Linked DNA regions of Homo sapiens. The protein of the gene in region 2 interacts with the protein of the main gene of each other region in a pairwise test. Each region holds a gene or a part of one and is shown on either strand. Other genes may lie near its edges.

Region 1 (6,620 bases), on a different chromosome or scaffold from region 2:
TCTGCCTGTGTCAAATTTATTTGGGAAAAAAAACAGTGTCAGTTGAGATAAAAAGCCTATAGAAGAAATGTTTGTTGGTGTTGTGTGGGTGTGTCAGAGGATGAACACATGCATGTGTGTTTATGTACATGTATTACATATGCAGACACACACATACACACATACACACACACATATATAATAAATATATTCTGCCCAAATTAGCACAAACCCACAAGCTTAAAAACCAAATCTGCTAAATCTGACTCAAACAACAGGTACTGAGCCTACAGCTACTTCCTGCAAGCAGATGCATTACCTCTGTGACAAAGTCAGTTGTGAGTTGCAAAAAGGATAGGTAAATATCATTAAGATAAGTTAAGATTCTGCTTTCTAAAAAAATTTAAATGCAAAACATTACCTCAGGACACTGGCCACACTGTATGATTTCTGCATAATACCCAGCATATCCTAGACACTAAAGAATACTAAATTTACAACTTAAGCAGGAAAACAGAGGCTTGCTTCACAGTGGTTTAATATGAACAGAGTTGAATATGACATTGTCTGACAGAAGAATGAACAGTTTGCTGAATAAAAGCCCCGAGTCAGGATATATATACACAGCAGAAATGGGGCCTCAGACTCTCAGCACTTGTGCACAATGAAAGAGGAAATCGTTTTTAAAAAATGTCTATAACAGAGGATACAAATCAAAAAGGCAGCAACAACAACATTGGCGAGGTGGGAAAGGGAGCAGAGCCTCTCATTAGGGGCTGCTTAGCCCCTGGCGCAGGCTCAGCAGCTGGAGAGCTGTCTCAGGGAACTTCAACATTTAGATGGGTTCCAAATCCTATGTCAAAATACAATCCTAATCTCTCTGATCAGGGTCAGTCAGAATCAGCAATCCTTTTCCACAGTGCCCTGCATAGAAAACTCCAATCTTTCCATGATAGGGAGTCTAAGCAAAGAGCCCCCACCTCTCACCTGGCACCAAAGTTAACTTACTCTCACCCCACCACTTGGGACAGACGTTGGGCCCCAGCAAACAAACCACCCCCTCCAAGACAGAAACCAGGATAGTTGCCAGCCTCAAGAAGCTGCTTCAAATGTTAAGATTTAGGAAATCCATACCAAGCTGCTATCCATAGTTCAACTTCTGGGGAAAATGCTGGAGTTGCATGAGAAACAAGTGCAGGCAGTTCAATAACCCTGTGACCACGCTGGGGAGGGCAGCAAAAACTCTTGCCCCTGAGCCCCATTCAACAACTCAAAGTGCTTAGGAGAAGTCAGAGACTGTGTGGTTGGTTTGTGTGCTTCTGCCCTGTGGCAGCACTAAATGGGATGGGGGAAAGGAGAATGGAAGGAAGACAGTGTTGATGCCCTTCCCTACCGCGGGTAAGAGCCTAGAAGATAATCCACTCCCACCCTTCAGGGAGTTACCTGGCAGTGGTGAGTTGCCCCCACCCCTCAAGCCACCAAACCTGCAAAGCTAACCCATAAAGTAGCAAGGGCTTAGGGAGGGAGAACTGCTGGCCCATACTGACTCACCAGCTGATGAGCAAAAATAGGCAGCTAGAGTGGGAGCCACAAAGGGAGAGGGGCTAGGCAATAGGAGCTCCCCTACTGCCCTATGGCTTTCTTCTGACTCTGAAGCAGCCATAATGATGGGCCCAGAAAACCCACACACCCTGCTCCATACAACAGACTGCTTGGACTCTAGGAGGATTACTGCCATGGAAAGCAACAAGGGAGAGAGAAAGCAACAAAAGAAACTGTTAAGAAAACTGGGAGCAGGCCTGAAGAAAACAAGGAAAGCTTCTGAGTCTCTACCACCTTTCCAAAAAGGAAAAAATACATGCAGTTAGGAAAGGCAGGGTTTTTCCCTGCTCAGTGTTCTTGGTTAAACCTAAGAGTAAGAAAAATCCCCTGAACTTGCAGCATCAGTATGTATCCAAGTGCCTCACCAGCACAAGCGCCCCCCTCCCCCCAGGTTAGCCTTCTGGCATGGGTAAATGCCCAAGAAATTGCCTTCCAGTCTAATCCCCCCACCCACCCACCCCAACCCCAAGCAAAGGGCATCTGCCTGTGGGTTCCCACCTCTCCTCAGAGAAGAGGATCCTAGCAGAGTGCCCACATGGTGTAGTCAGGTACCAGGGAGCACAATGCCAGACAGTCTATCAGGCCAGGAGATGGGCAGCCAACTTCAGATCAAAGACAGAGAGAGGCTTAGTGTAAAAACCAATGTCATTTCAGCAGGAAAGTAGAGGGCAGGTGGTGAGAGGGGCTCCTACTGGCGCACCTTCCCCGGGACGTAGTTCCTGTCAATTGCCTCCTCTTGCAGGAACATGTGTAGGCAGCGTTCATTCTGAGCCAGTGGGTGCCCAGCAATTCTATAAAGAAACCAGGATGGTTATCAGTAGTATTCAGAATCAGAGAGAATTAGCAGAGGGATGGGGATGTGGACAGGGGAAGAAGGGCAAGGTCAGCCCTGAGGTTCAAGCCAGTAGAGGACAGCAGTAGGGTACCACCTCAACCCTAATATTGTAAAGGGGACGGGGGATAGAGGGGCAAGACAGGGAAATCCCTAGATATAACCAACATGCAGTGCTTTCTCAGGCCCTGACACACAGGATCAGAATCCTACTCAAAGGAATGGAGTTTTACTGTCCAGTCAGCCCACCACACAATTGGCACCACATCATGGTACCCATTATAAAAGGTGAGCTGGGTGCGGTGGCTCACGCCTGTAATCCCAACACTTTGGGAGGCCAAGGCAGGTGGATCACTTAAGGTCAGGAGTTCGAGACCAGTCTGGCCAACATGGTGAAACCCCATCGCTACTAAAAACATGAAAATTAGCTGGGCATGGTGGCCGGCGCCTGTAATCCCTGTTACTCAGGAGGCTGAGGCAGGAGAATCACTTGAACCCAGGAGACGGAGGTTGCAGTGAGCCGAGATCACACCATTGCACTCCAGCCTAGGTGACAGAGTGAGACTCTGTCTCAAATAAATAAATAAGTAAATAAAAATAAAATAAAAGGTGAGGTAAACAAAACATATAGAAAGACTACGATGGCAAAAGTAGCAAGTGGAGCCCCCAGGAACTTGGCTTACTTGTTAATAAACTGCTCGAGGCCCTGCCTCCTTTCTTCGATGAAAGACTCCTCAAAGATCCCTTCATCTCCTCGGAAAGGGAGCTGCCGCTTCAAGGCTTTCCCAGGCAGTGGTGGTACTACAATCTGCAGGCACACACAAAATTCCAGCCACATGGGAGAGAGACAGAGTGGGAATGAGATGGTAAAGCACCGTGTACCTCATTTCTTATTAGGCATAGGGTCCATCCTGTCCCACAGCCAGCAACTTGCAAGAACTAAGACCATAAGAACAGTCAGGATGGCTCAGGTCAAAAATTAATCCGTTTCTGTGGGAAGACAGGTTTACCACCTCAAAAGAAGGAAATAAACTCCAAATAATCCTCACTTTCCTTAACAAGCCACTACCATTCAAGAATTTAGCTAGGATTTTCCTGACACTAGACTTTCCATTTTTAGCACCTACAGGAATTAAGTTGTACAACTTTACTAGCGACTAAGTGAAGTAATACTTTAAAAAAAAAACTTGTCCTGAACTTACCACTTTCTTTTTTTTTTTTTTTTTTTTTTGAGACAGAGTCTTGCTCTGTCATCCAGGCTGGAGTGCAGTGGCACGATCTCAGCTAACTGCAACCTCTGCCTCCCAGGTTCAAGCAATTCCCATGCCTCAGCCTCCCAAGTAGCTGGGATTACAGGCATCCACCACCACACCTGGCTGATTCTTGTATTTTTAGTACAGGCGGGGTTTCACCATGTTGGCCAGGCTGGTCTTGAACTCCTGACATCAGGTGATCCGCCCGCCTCAGCCTCCCAAAGTGCTGGGATTACAGGCGTGAGCCACTGTGCCCAGCCAGAACTTACCACTTTCAAGTTTCAAAAGGTATCCCCCCGATCTAAAATACTGAGATTTGATGGATAAGAATGTGTTCACCCTCTTCATTCCCTTCAAGACTTTATAGACTGTGGTTGTATGCCCACTCAGCCTATGCAGAGCTCCTCCTCCAAAGATGCCACACAGAGAACAAAGCCATACCTTGCTATCTCTCTCCAGCTCATTTTTCAGCCACTCAAAGTCACTGTAGCGCCGCCGTACGCAGGACTCCTTTAGCTTGAAGATAGGTAGGTTTGTCTACATGGAAGGAAAAATTAAAGAAGAAAGATGGTAATGTTCAGCCTGTGGTAGCCACCTGTCTGAGTAACTTGGACAGGTCCCAATGAAGAAATAGCTCCTATGGATCATGCTCCTATAACCCCTTCAAATCACCACCAGGTAAAAACCAACCCTTACCACATCCAACCTTATCATAGCTGATGATCAGAAGTCCCTTGCTGCTTTGAATTTATCCTACAAGTAGACTTGCAGTAGTATGTAAATATGTACATATAAGAGTTTTCACCAGGCTTGGTGGCTCACGCCTGTAATCCCAGCACTTTTGGAGGCCAAGGCAGGCAGATCACTTGAGGTCAAGAGTTCAAGACCAGCCTGGCCAACATGGTGAAACCCTGTCTCTACTAAAAATACAAAAATTAGCCAGGTGTGGCGGCACACACTTGTAATCTCAGCAACTTGTGAGGCTGAGGCAAAAGGATCACTTGAATCCAGGAGGCGGAGGTTGCAGTGAGCCAAGATCACACCACTGCACTCCATCCTGAGAGACAGAGTGAGATTCTGTCTCAAAAAAAAAAAAAAGAGTTTCACTGCATTTTATTATTTATAATAATAATAAATGTCTATGAATAGACAATAGGTTACAATGAATTATGGTATACCTGTATAGTAGAATATTAAATAACTATGAAAAGAATGTGAAAGCCAGGTGCAGTGGCTCACACCTATAATCCCAGCACTTTGGGATGCCGAGGCAAGGGATCACCTGAGCCCAGGAGTTTGAGAGCAGCCTGGGCAACCATAGCAAGATTCCATCTCTACAAAAAGTAAAAAAGCCAGGTGTAGTGGCAGTGCTCGCTTGTGGTCCCAGCTACTCAGGAGGATCACCTGAGCCCAGGAGGTCAAGGCTATGGTGAACTGTGATTATGCTACTGTAATCTGGCACAGAGACTCTGTCTCTCGAAATAAAAATGAAAGATCTCTATGTGCCAGTATGGAAAGATATTAAGTAGTAAAATCAAGGTATAGAACAGTATATATATATAGCTTGCCTCTATTTGTGTTTTAAAAAGGGATGTATATGTATATATTTATACTGATTAATAAAGTATTTATGAAAATATACTGGTAATGGTGATTGACTTTCGAGAGTAAGAGAAGACAACTGGAATGGGTGGAATAGTCACATTTTTCATTGTACAATTTGAATTTATCATGTGTACATATTACATTTTCCTTTAAAAAGTGAATTTAAATTCCCTGTAAAGAGATAAACACATCCAAGGTATGCCTACCTCTGCTCTTCCTGTCCAAATCCTCTCCATTCTACCAGTGCTCACTCAACTCTCACTTCAAACAAAAAAATTTTCTGACAACAACAACTGGATTTATTGGTTTTCCTCCTCTCTGAACTCTTCTGACAGTTATACTTTAGCATTGCCTGATACACTATTGTTTTATGCATCATGTTTGCCTTGTCTAACTAACTAATCTCATTAAGATCAGAAACTATGACTACTTCTGCATCTTCTAAAATGCAGAATATGCAAGTTACTCAATAAATGCTCAATTGATTAATAGAGACTCTATGTGTCTGTTTATCCTCTCCTCATCTAGAAAATGCATAAGAAATCACCATTACAAAAGTTGGCTTACCATAGCTTGCTCCCTGATATAAATCAGCTCATTCCCACATTTTAAACACTGAGAAGATTCCCAAGGCTCTAGTGGCAACACGAATCCCCTGACAGAAAACCCTGATCTTCACTCCTGTCTACAAGTTCTAAATAGAAATGGCCAACCACATGTATTAATACTGACCATATTTACTGCCAGTCAATTCAGGTGAGAGGATGAATAAAATAAACTAGTTATCTCCTTTCTCCACAACTGCCTCTTGGCAGGAAAAGAGCAACTCGAAACTCCATTAGAGCTTCACACAGAACCCACTACATCATGCTTTGTACTCCTTGACACTGGAAATTGTCTTTTCAGGATCCAGTTCTCAAATAGGCCATCAAAAGCCAAATAACTGGCCAATTGTACATTAAACTCCATCCAGGATCGTCAAGGTCCAAGGAATGTCAATAGGTTGAAATGGAGTGAGATTCATATAAAGTAAGATTACTAAACCATTATTTATTTAAAAGAATAAATAAGGGCTGGATGCGGTGGCTCACGCCTGTAATCCCAGCACTTTGGGAGGCGAGGCAGGCAGATCACTTGAGGTCAGGAGTTCGAGACCAGCCTGGCCAACATGGTGAAACCCTGTCTCTACTAAAAACACAAAAATTAGCCAGGTGCTTGTAATCCCAACTACTCAGGAAGGTGAGGCAGGAGAATCGCTTGAACCCAGGAGGCGGAGGCTGCAGTGAGCCGAGATCATGCCACTGCCCTCCAGCCTGGGTGACAGAGCAAGACTTTGTCTCAAAAAAAAA
Region 2 (7,032 bases):
AGCTTTGAAAGCCACCATCATTATGAGATAAATTATATAATAGTACTTTACATAGGCTCCAAAATACAGCACAGACACAGCTATCATTGTCATGGTCATCATTATCATCATGATCACCAACTTATGAGGATAAGCAAGAACACCTACTAGAAGTTTCTTTCCATTCAGCAACAAAATTGGTGTCTTTCTAGTCACTCCCTTCCCTGACTGTCACATAGCAGTTCACAGAGGCTCAGTTGCAGAATGAGAAGCTCTGGGCCAGGACCTGCCATTGTATGCATCCTTGCATGGGAACTGGGGGCTGGAAGAGGAGTGACTGCTTGATAATTATGAGTCAGTCAAAACCACCAACTGTCTGAAAAAAATAGGCCTTTTTGTAACTAGTATTGTCACTAAACCAACTCCTCCATGTTTTGTGCATACATGAAATCTAGGCAATACACTTGTATTCCCAAAAGCTTCCACTTGAAGAGATCTGTGCTCTTTCCAAATATAAACCTTACCCGAGAGGTGGTCATCTTGGCCACACCTCAGAGAGGGAGAGAGGCAGTCTTGTTGGGTTGGGTGGTCATAATGGGGCTCAGGGCCAAATCCCCAGGGGGTAGGATAGTGCAGAGAAGATGGCACTCTCCAGTGCTTAATAAAATGCACGTGGTCTAAGCTGCCCACTCCCTCAAAGGCAATAAAAAATAGGTACTATTTAAATTGAAGAGTAACTACTGCCCCAGGGAATGGACAGGTTGTCATTGGAATAGCCATGGTTAATGGTCCCAGTTGACAACTGAAATGAATGTGCTACCTGAACAGGAAAGCTTATTAACCAGATTTCAAAGACAGTCTTTCCCGGTAAATCCAAATTTACAAATTAAAGCCAGTAAAGACACCGAATTCTCTAATAATATGTGGGGTGCAGTATATTTTAGAGCTGGGAATAATTCCAAACAGCAAATAGTTCAAAATTTATTTTCAATTTAGCATATGCATGCATTTGCTTAAACTGTCTTAAAAATGAGTAAAAAATACTGTCAGTTTGTTTCAATCATACTGAGATGAGGAACAATGTTTAGCATTGCATGCTAGAAAAGGACACAGGATTGGGAGTCAGGGCTGGGTGACCGTCACAGGACTTTCACTAACTGTGTGGATCTTGGGCAAGTCTGTGTGCCCTGAGACTCAGTTATTTAACTTTCTTTTAAAAAACATAGTCCAGATGCAGATAACAAAGCCTGCCTCTAATTTCCCTTACAGAATTGTGAGAAGCTGGTGGAGATGTTTGTTACAAAAGTGTTTTGAAAATAGAGCAAATATTATTCTTTTTAAGGCATGATGTTTTCATAGCATGTCAGGCAACAGGAAAAAACTAAGTTAGGATTTTATTTTATTGTGGGGAATTTATGTGCAAATTATTGTGCAATTTAATGAAAATAAGCCAATGTTTTATACAGAAGTACCCAGAAAATTAAATAACACTATACATTGTTCAAATAGTTGCCTTAATATATTTTATTTTCTCAGCATAATTAGAGTTGTATTATACAGGTCTTTGAGTAGTCAGTCAGTGGGAGAAGTTAAGACAACAGATATCTTTTTATTAAAATTATTATATGAATTATCGCAAATTAATTTTTATGGTTCTGTCACAGGATGTCTGACTCAACTCTATGAAAACGCCTTCTTCAGAGGTGGGGATGTAGCTTCCATGTACACCCCAAATGCCCAATACTGCCAGATGAGGTGCACATTCCACCCAAGGTGTTTGCTATTCAGTTTTCTTCCAGCAAGTTCAATCAATGACATGGAGAAAAGGTAAAAGTTGGTATTTCATTATTGGAGAAGCTGTTTTTCAAAACTGAATCAGTTTTGTGCAGAAAGGTGTAGTATAACTGAGAGTTCTTCCTCACACGGGGTTCAAGGACCAGCTTCAGCAAAATCCCGTCAAGTGGTTCTTACAAATGCAGATTCCTAGGCCACAACCCAGATCTGCTGAACCAAAGTTTCTTGTGACCAGGAATCTGCATTTTAAACAATCACTGTGTTTCTTTAAAGTAGTAGAAGCTAGTCATTTTCTATTCAAAGCCTCAAAATGCTTGAATATCATTGGGCTAAGGGATTGTCTCAAGAAAGAGTCTAACAGGTGCACATTTCATCTGAATAAAGAAACAGATTTAACTGTGTGACCCATGATCACATTAGCGGATAGCACAGTCCAAAGAAAATAACATAAGACAAGCATTTTGCTGAGAATGTAATTGAGAAAGATCTAGAACTTGTGATTTTGGGACAGGGCAGTTCTAAATGGGGCCTATAGTGAGCCAGTTTGGGCACCTGTGGCATGATGCTATGTATGGTGTGTGTGTGTATGTGTGCTTGTGCTTGTGTGAATATGTATTATTAACTGGAAATTTGTAAAAGTATTGGAAAAATAGTACTTACGATTTTGTGTGTGTGTGTGATGGAGTCTCGCTTTGTAGCCCAGGCTGGAGTGCAGTGGCGTGATCTCGGCTCACTGCAACTTCCACCTCCCAGGTTCAAGCGATTCTCCTGCCTCAGCCTCCCAAGTAGCTGGGATTACAGGCACGCACCACCACGTCCAGCTAATTTTTGTAGTTTTAGTAGAGACGGGGTTTCACCACATTGGCCAGGCTGGCCTTGAACTCCTGACCTCGTGATCCACCTGCCTCTACCTCCTAATGTGCTGGGATTACAGGCATGAGCCACCGCACCCAGCGGTAATTACAATTTTTATTAGGTCAGAGAGATGCTTATTAATCACGAGCCACAGTTTCATCTTAATGATTTTTCCTTTTGATTAATATCCAGAGTAAGCTTTTCTTTGTTGTTCCCATTTCCATGTTCATAACTCTTTACTCATCTTCACTCTATGTGAGTTTACCAACTAGAAATTGGATAGTCATTCTCTGATCCCACATGTTAAACTTGTAGAGAAAACTCAGATTGTATGTGAGGATCATCATATTAAAAGTGGAGGAAGGTTCTAGAATTCTTATAAATAATGAAATTAACATGAAGGTGGACATCTAAGACAGAGGGAAGTCTTCCATTAAGTGCAGACTACAAGGAGTTAATAAGCAAGATGAACACGATATACAAATCCAGCTCTTATCACTAAGTTAACTTTTTAAGTAAATGAAAGTATTTGCAAAAATAATTACCAATTGAGAACATAGTTGCCTGAAAGTTTAAGAACACAGGAAAAATCATTAACTCTTTAATATGGTTGATTTCCTGTACTTAAAAAATGTGAGTGTAAAGAAAACGCAGTGATGGAGTTAGATATTATGGGGTGTTATAAAATTAGCTCTAAGAGTGTTCTTTCCAGCAAGTATTGGGGAAGCTATATTATTTTCCTTATTCCTGGTTTTATTTGTTAGTGTGTAGAAAATGCTAGACATTTCCTCAATGTATGTTTATTATTCTACTTCCTAAGTAAAGCTACTTTTAAAATAGGTTTGGTTGCTTCTTGAAAGATAGTGTTACAGGAACCCTGCCAAAAGTACATCGAACAGGTGCAGTTTCTGGACATTCCTTGAAGCAATGTGGTCATCAAATAAGTGGTAAGTTGTGAATTTCTTAGCTACATTTGAGTTAATATTGGATCTCGCTTAGAACAGCTTTTGCTCAAAGTTTGTACTGCTACAGCTTTTTGGAAGGCATCACTCATAAAGATAGGAGATGGGGCAGTATTCTGGACACAAAAGAGGGACCCATATTCATCTGGACACTTCTATTGTCTTTATAAATCAACACATACTTAATGAGCCTCTATTATTTATGAGGTTAGCGCTCAAGTGTAAGATTTGCAGAAAATGAATCCAAATAATTGTGTCTCGTTTCCAGATAAGAATTTTTAAGAAAACACAAGGGAACATCTCTCTCAAGTTCACTTGAGGGTAATTTTTACATCAGTGATTCTCAACCAGCAGTGATTTTGTCTCTTCCACTGGGGACATTTGACAATGTCTGGAGACATTTTTGGTGGCTACAACTAGGGAGGATGCTATTAGCATTTACTAAGTAGAGGCCAGAATGTTTGAATGCTGACCAACATTCTACAAGGCACAGGGCAGTCGTCCACAGCAAATAATTTTCTGGCCCAAAACGTCAACAGTGCTGACATCAAGAAACTCTGTGATATACCACTAGGCCCAAATTGAAGAACTGAGTTCTGCAAATCTTGCTAAGAATAATACTTCCTAAAGGAAACTTGAGGACTAGGATGCTAGAGAACTTTGATTCTGACATCTGAAGCTACTGATGTCTTGGGAAACAGTTTCCAATGCTATCCTAATAAATTTAAGACAAATGAACTATTTCTCAAACATGACTGGGACTGATAAGAAAGTGAAAAGTGCTGAAAAGATTCAACTGATGGGTTGTCAGAATCTTAAAATAACTGCTGTTATTCTATGTATGACTATATATCATTACTATTTTATTTTCATTATGCACAATTAATTTTGTAGGTTCAAATTTCAGATGTTTTTAAATTTGTCATCCTTTCCTCCCTCATTGATATCACCTCTTCAATACGTACACACTTTGAGCCTGCTGTTTGCATTTTAACCAGTTATCAAAGGATGGCAATGCCTTCATTATAAATGTGGGCCTGACTTAGCCAGTATAATAGGTGTAGTCTACGTGAGGTGGAGTACATTTCCTATTTTAAAAGATCAATTTTTATGTTAATCCAATTTGGTATAAATTATTCGAGTAAGTGCTATTTCTGATTGTTGTATCTTGTAGCAAAATTTAAAGAAAAAGTAATTTGTGCCTTTCTCAATATTCCTGTTATTGTTCATGTATTCTAAAACTCACTGTTACTCACTTAGCTTGCTTTTAATGTTTTTTAAAGTGAAAAATTGTTCCCAAGTACATAAAATCTCTACACTCAAGAACAATTCTAGTCAAAAGCATTTAGAGCTTCCGTATGAACACTTAAAGAGTTTTTATTTGTAAGAGTCGCATCCCAACTCTTAGCCTGTTCTTTTCTCACATGCAGAAAAATAGGAAAGAGACTTCGTTTCCACAGTCTGCAAATTCCTGTGTTTAAGAACCACAGTGAATAATCCACCTCCCTGCCCAACTCATCGTACTGTCATATAGTTTTCCTGACAGTTTGTGTATTTTCTGTCTTTCCCACCCTTAAATTTAGTTTTATGACTTCAACCATACTTCTTAGGAGTGGAAAGGTATCTGTAGTAGATTATGGTTTATTCCACATAATCTTGGGGAATAAAACTTTAAAAAAGTATACAGTTTATACTTCTGGTTACATTACTTCCTTAACCAAAAGTCTAACCAAGAAATTTGAATCTTTAAAAAAAAAAGAGGCCGGGCGCGGTGGCTCACGCCTGTAATCCCAGCACTTTGGGAGGCCGAGACGGGCGGATCACGAGGTCAGGAGATCGAGACCATCCTGGCTGACACGGTGAAACCCCGTCTCTACTAAAAATACAAAAATTAGCCGGGCGTGGTGGCGCGCGCCTGTAGTCCCAGCTACTCGGGAGGCTGAGGCAGGAGAATGGCGTGAACCCGGGAGGCGGAGCTTGCAGTGAGTCGAGATCGCGCCACTGCGCTCCAGCCTGGGCGACAGAGCGAGACTCCGTCTCAAAAAAAAAAAAAAAAAAAAGAGCCTAATTTTGCTTCACTGTCTGTGAAAAGAATTATCTGTATCTTTTGCATGTAAGACAAATCTCAATGAAAAGGGTGCTTAAATAGAAGTTAACACTATTTTAAAGCAAGAATGGAAGTGGTTTCATCATGCGTAAACAACAACTCTCCACATTTTGTAATGATTGATCTGGATGCAATTTGTCATCAGACAGGAGAAGTCGAAAGCAAAGAAATAACACTGGGAGATAGAGAAGCTCTTTCATTCAATGCGAAAGGTCAAAGGCACATCAGTTTCTTTAATAATGCAAACCTCAGCACACATTATCAGTGTCCTCATTATTATTGCCTTGTTTATTTCCCACTGCTCATTGATAATTTCAACGTGAAATTTACCTGTATTGCTGCATGCATCTTGCAGTTTAAGAAGTGAAGTAACCCAATTTCAAAGCTAGTGCTTTAGGGAAAATATTGGATTGTATTTACTTCAAGCAGAGTTCGATAATTTATGTACATAATAAAAATTTTAAATCCCTTAGTTAATATAGCAGTTGCCAAAACTGGGCTATTATCATTCTAAACTACCAACCCAAATGGTAGTGGGTATCTAATCTACCTCTAGAAAGAAAATGGACTGTATTTGCTCTATGTATTTTTCTTGTACAGCTTGCCATCGAGACATTTATAAAGGAGTTGATATGAGAGGAGTCAATTTTAATGTGTCTAAGGTTAGCAGTGTTGAAGAATGCCAAAAAAGGTGCACCAGTAACATTCGCTGCCAGTTTTTTTCATATGCCACGCAAACATTTCACAAGGCAGAGTACCGGTGAGTACAATTCAAGGTGTGTGTTCTTTGTATTGGTGCCTCCAGGATTTCACTGTATTCTTCTTAACCTCTTTTGTTCCCAAACTAAAAACCAAACAGGGCTTTTATTCTAACCACTTTCCTCATTTACTTACTCTATTTTATTTTTTTATCTTTTATTTATTTATTTATTTATTGAGATGGAGTCGCGCTCTGTCGCCCAGGCTAGAGTGCAGTGGCGTAATCTCGACTCACTACAACCTCCGCTTCCCGGGTTCAAGCGATTCTCCTGCCTCAGCCTCCCGAGTAGCTGGGATTACAGGCGTCCGCCACCATGCCTGGCTAATTTTTGTATTTTTAGTAGAGTCGGGGTTTTACTATGTTGGTCAGGCTGGTCTCGAACTCCTGATCTTGTGATCCACCCACCTCAGCCTCCCAAAGCGCTGGGATTACAGGCATGAGCCACTGCGCCTCGCCCTTCATTTTTTAATTAAATAATTCATTTAATTTCATTTGTTTCTCTACTCTTTTCCCCTGGCATGTAATTGTACCGCATCTTCAAAGCCTGACATCCTCTTCCCCTACTTCTCCAAAGC

The links. Proteins that work in one complex are often made in the same cells at the same time.
Region 1: the proteins of KLKB1 (region 2) and SNX12 interact in binary tests that used the Homo sapiens proteins (3 or more experiments, as listed by UniProt).

What each region holds. Positions count from the first base shown.
Region 1 is NC_000023.11:71,058,747-71,065,366, forward strand, and holds the end of SNX12 (sorting nexin-12), read right to left. Parts: intron 5,966-6,620; exon of another isoform or gene 5,842-5,965; coding exon of another isoform or gene 5,839-5,841; intron 4,204-5,838; coding exon 4,108-4,203; intron 3,222-4,107; coding exon 3,097-3,221; intron 2,373-3,096; coding exon 2,270-2,372; 3' UTR 501-2,269; downstream 1-500. UniProt on the Homo sapiens protein: May be involved in several stages of intracellular trafficking.
Region 2 is NC_000004.12:186,230,484-186,237,515, forward strand, and holds part of KLKB1 (plasma kallikrein isoform 1 preproprotein), read left to right. Parts: intron 1-1,643; coding exon 1,644-1,806; intron 1,807-3,468; coding exon 3,469-3,575; intron 3,576-6,297; coding exon 6,298-6,457; intron 6,458-7,032. UniProt on the Homo sapiens protein: Participates in the surface-dependent activation of blood coagulation. Activates, in a reciprocal reaction, coagulation factor XII/F12 after binding to negatively charged surfaces.